Regions from separate parts of the Homo sapiens genome. Here region 1 is linked to region 2. Evidence: fine-mapped expression QTL. Tissue or cell type: blood mononuclear cells. Region 2 holds a variant in brackets; the other region holds the start of a gene. All regions are shown on one strand. Distances are from middle to middle.

Region 1 (2,539 bases), 94 kb before region 2:
AGAGTTGGGTAATATGTCCTCCAGCTAAAATATACCTGTTCTTAAAGATCTGCCGCACTTGTTGCTCTTGTTAATTTCTTAGACGCATAACAAGTCAGTCGCTAAAACCACTAATTAAAAGGGGTGTGAGGAAGACCAACTCATAACTGCTTTGGAAGCATACAATTAGCAGTGCTGCTGCTCCTGCCAGGTGTGCTGGAATTTATTATACAGTTTCTAATAGTTCACTCTTAGGACATAATTTTGTAGTTTGTTGCTCATAGAAGGGGCAACAAAACTACAAAATCCTGTGTTATTCCTTCGTGGAAATTCGGTCATAAATTCTGAGACCTTGAAGGCCAGAGTTGTTAAAACATAATATAATATGATGACACAGATCAGCTTCTATACAAGGAGCCCGGGAGTCTGATGAAGTGTTTCCATCGGGAAAACGCCCCCGCCTACTCGCTCACACACGCTTGTTTCTCCCGCCAAAGTGACGTCAGGCCGAAGCTCTCACCAAACAGCGCCCTGATTGGCGGACAGGCAGGCGCTGCAGCCCATTGGGCGCCGGCGGCGGCCGAGCAAGGAAAACCAAAGGCTCTTCGGTCTCGCCCGCCCCACCCCCACGGACGCGCGCCCCGACCCCGGCCAAAGGAAGGGTTGCCCGGCTCCAGCCCTGCACCCCCGACCCCCGGCCTCAGGTGCAGCTCCGCAGCCATCCCCGGACCAGGGCGGGCACTTGGCCTGTTGCTCAGCGCAACCACCCTCGCCCTCCCGAGCCATGCACAGGGAGACAAGCGTCCGGCCCCGGCCCCCCAGGCCTCCCTGCAGCACCCCGTAATGTAATGCACTGGGGCGGGGGAGGCGGGGGAGGCGGCGGCGGCGGCAACCGCGGAGGCGCGGCGGCAGCCGCACTGCCCCAATCTAGACACATCCAGAAGAGGAGGAAAATGGCTCCGAGCAGGGACCGCCTGCTGCACTTTGGGTTCAAGGCGACAGTGAGTGACAGGGGAAGGGAGCTGGGTGGCCGGGAAGGATGCGGGTGCCTTACAGGATCCTGGGGAACAAGTGACGAGGGGCGACGGGCGCGGGCAGAGGCTGAGGTTCTGTGCAGGCAGGTGCGTGCCTGTTTGCCCGCGGAGGGAGGAGAGGGGGACACGGGGCAGAAGAGGGGCCCCCGCGCAGAGTGCGGTACTGCTCTACTCTCCCTCGCTGGTCCGCGAGCACGCGCGCACTCGCATCCGCCCCACAGACCCCCTTTTCCACACGCACAGGCACTTCCCTGCCTCGCCTTCTCCCGATGGGCTCGTCTGCCTCGGAGGCGCAGGGGGTCGTGCCGCCGCCGCGCACCGGCTGCTCCCGGGAGCGCCGTCAGGGCCGGCCCCGTGTGGGGGAGGGGTGGTCTCGCGCCGCCGCCGCCGCGCTCCTCCCCTCCCGCCCCTCCCCCTCCCGGGCGCTCCGAGGCCCGGGCGGCTCTGTCCAATGAGCAGCGGCGTTGCTGGCAGGTGGGGAGTGTTTTTGTTTTGGGTTGAAGTTGAGGCTGAGGAGAGAGCCGAGCTAGCGACGAGCAGTCGTTGCGGCCGCCGGCGCCGCGGGAGGTGGTGGAGGCCTAGCCGGAGCCGAGAGGTCTCTTGTTCCCGTCCCACGGTCCCGGCGTCACCCCTCCGGCGCCCAGTCCCCGTCCCGGAACTCCCGGGCCTGTCCTGGGCCCCCGGTCTGTGCACTCCGCTCGCCGCAGCGCCCGGCCCGGGCCGCACCCGCCGGCCCCATGAGGAGGGACGTGAACGGAGTGACCAAGAGCAGGTTTGAGGTGTGAGCTTGGGGGGCTCGGGCGGCGTGAGGAGGGCGGGTCGCGCGCTCTAATCCCAAAACGTCCGCTCCGCACGGAGCCTCCTCCCTGGCAGGCGCCGTCACCCACCCACTGGCGGGGCTGCCAGACTCCGCTCCCCTTTCTTGCGACCCAGAAGCCCAGCGCAGCCCGGTGCCCCCAGTCCCCTCGCCGGTTCGCCCCCCGTCTCTTCCCACCAGCGGGCCCCCGCGGGGGATTAGCTCGGGCGCCCTAATTCCACCCTCCTCCAGGATCGCTCAGCTTTCCATTCTTTACACAACCCTTGGCTTGCCTCCTTCCACCCAGCCATCACGGCTCCGGTCCACCAGAGCCTGCTGCTTTTCTCGCTGCTACCTTCATGACGCGTTTGTTGTCTGTTGAGGGAGGAAATTAGGGGATGGGTACCATTTCTCCGAGTTTGAGACCTTGGTGAAACTAGGGAAGTGGGGACGGTAGTTTGGGATGATAGAGGCTACCACGGGTTTTCGGTGCTGTGTTTGGTTTGGGTATTGTTCTGATACTTCCTCTGCTTTCCCGTTTAGTCTGTACTTCTGTAGCTCATTGTTCCTTGGGAACCCTTGGATGTCTACATGCTTTGAGATTGGGACGAAAGTTCAGCAAATCCATTCCGGTCTGTCTTTCAGGAACTTTTTCTCCTCTAGCGAGGGAGGTTTACTGTCCTGGAATTGAGGAGTGGACGGTCTTGAAAGCGTCTTTAGAGAGTAGTCA
Region 2 (2,500 bases):
GTGGCTCACTCCTGTAATCCCAGCACTTTGGGAGGCTGAGGCGGGTGGATCAGGAAGCCAGGAGATTGAGACCATCCTGATTAACACAGTGAAACCCCGTCTCTACTGAAAATACAAAAAATTAGCCGGGCGTGGTGGTTCGGCGCCTGTAGTGCCAGCTACTCAGGAGGCTGAGGCAGGAGAATGGCATGAATCTGGGAGGGGGAGCTTGCAGGGAACCAAGATTGTGCCACTGCACTCCAGCCTGGGTGACAGAGCAAGACTCCGTCTCAAAAAAAAAAAAAATTATTGTATTAAAAATTTTTTTGATTTTTTATTTCCCACCATTCTAATAGAAACCTATTTTTTTTTCTTTTTTTAAGAGACAGTCTGGCTCTGTTGCCCAGGCCAAAGCATAGTGGGGTGATCACAGTTCCCTACAGCCACTTACTCCTGAGCTCAAGTGATCCTCTTTCCTTAGCCCCCTGGATAGCTAGGACTACAGGCGTGCACCACAATCCTCAGCTAAATTTTTTCATTTTTACAGAGTCGGGGTCTCACTGTGTTGCCCATACTGGCCTCAAACTCCTGGCCATGGGCCAGGTGTGGTGACACACGCCTGTAATGCCCGCACTTTGGGAGGCCAAGGTGGGTAGATCACCTGAGCCCAGGAGCTCGAGACCAGCCTGGGCAACATGGCAAAACCCTGTCTTTAGGAAAAAAAAAAAAAAAGATCAAACTTTTGGCCGCAAGTGATCCTCCACCTGCCTTGGCCTCCCAGAGTGCTAGGATTATATATAGGTGTGAGCCACCATGCCTGGCCTGGCTTCCCCTAGACTTAGAATACAGTTGAAATCATTTACTATGTCCACAAAGTCTTTTAAATTTTTTTTTTTTTTTTTTTGAAATGATGTCTTGCTCTGTTGCCCAGGTTGGAGTGCAGTGGAGCCATCTCAGCTTACTGCAACCTCTGCCTCCCAAGTTGTAGCGATTCTCCTGCCTCAGCCTCCCAAGTAGCTAGGATTACAGGCACTTGCCACCACACCCAGCTAGTTTTTGTATTATTAGTAGAGACAGAGTTTCACCATGTTGGCCAGGCTAGTCTTGGAATCCTGACCTCAGGTGATCCACCCGCCTCGGCCTCCCAAAGTGCTGGGGATTACAGGTGTGAGCCACTGCGCCCAGTCTTTTTTTTAACATATTCTGGCCCTTGACTAACAGAAGTTTGTTCAATATCCTCATCTATAAGATGGGAATGCTAATAGTACCTATCTTATAGAATTGTTTTAAGGAGTCATTGGATTAGTATGTAAATTTACACACTTAGAATGATACCTGGTACATAATTAAGAACTCAGTATAGGGTTGTGCTGCTGCTGCAGTCCAGCTTCACTGTCTATTCTGATCTTCAAACATTCGTTTGTCATACACCCACTATTTCGTCTACTGGAATGCTCTTCTCCCCAGATCTTGGCAATCTGTTTCCTTTGATCATTTAGATCTTAAATCAAATACCTACTCCTAGGGGAGGCTTTCCTTGACCACCCTTCTATCACATTACTCAGCTTTATGTTTTTT[A/TA]TAGTACTCATCACTAATTGAAATTTTCTCATATATTTTACTTATTTTTTATCTACCTCCAGCCCCTATGCCGTGAGTTACTCAACAGTAGGGACTTAAAACAGTGCCCGTAGATAGCAGGTGGTAAAAATGTTTTTTGAATGAAACTCACCACCCTCCAAATCAGAATGTTTTTCTTTCCTTTCAGGCAAGCTGAAAAATTATAACCACAGCTTCAGATACTGCTCATCATTTTAACTAGATGTTTCCCCCTTTTGTATCCACCTATCCGGTTCTCCTTAGAGAAGGCAGATTCTCTAGACATTATTCACTATAATTGGTCTCTGGGCTTTTATTCAGGGATTTTCCTGTCCCTTGCTGGTGTCTTGCTGAGATTGCAGGATATAGATCAGTTATATTTGCTTTCCGTGTTGCTCCTTGCTTAACCCTCCCAGCTTATTTAATTTATTATCAGTTTTAAACAGTCCCTTACATGGGCCTCTACAGTTGGAGAAAAATCAAAATATCAGAAATCTGTTAGAGGAAGTAAATGTGTAAGAAAACCTAAGGGAAGATTCTTGAAACCAGTTCAGTTGCTATTAATAGTTTTTCTGACATCATGCAAATATTTCAATCACCAAAAGCACTTTCTGCTTCAAAACTGAAAATATTTAAAATAGTGTGATACTGGCATAAAGCAGACATAGACCAATGGAATAGAATAGAGAGCTCAGAAATAAACCTTCACATATATGGTCAAATGATTTTTGTCAAAAATGCCAGGACCATTCAGTGGGGAAAAGTACAGTCTTTTCAATAAATGGTCTTGCAAAGACCTATATCTAAGAACTAAAATTATAAAATCTTTGGAAGAAAACAGGAGAAAAACTTCATGACATTGAGTTTAGCAGTGATTTCTTGGATTTGACACCAAAAGTTCAGGAAATGAAAGAAAAAATAGATA

What was found. PIP is the estimated chance that this variant, and not a neighbour inherited with it, causes the effect.
Region 1: it holds the start of FBXL20, and the variant in region 2 is fine-mapped to the expression of FBXL20 in blood mononuclear cells (TOPMed, PIP above 0.99).

The regions. Positions count from the first base shown.
Region 1 is chr17:39,400,614-39,403,152 of GRCh38, reverse strand. FBXL20 (F-box and leucine rich repeat protein 20) reads left to right here and starts at 1,527. Exons shown (of 15, transcript NM_032875.3): 1 at 1,527-1,792. The coding sequence starts at 1,751. RefSeq lists silencers at 378-542, 508-897, 1,148-1,227, 1,258-1,457, 1,488-1,917 and 1 more.
Region 2 is chr17:39,306,354-39,308,853 of GRCh38, reverse strand. The region is part of intron 2 of FBXL20 (F-box and leucine rich repeat protein 20); the gene reads left to right. Among named protein-coding and RNA genes, the nearest start is that of MIR548BC, 10 kb to the right of the region's middle. The variant A/TA (reference allele first, on the strand shown) is at 1,558.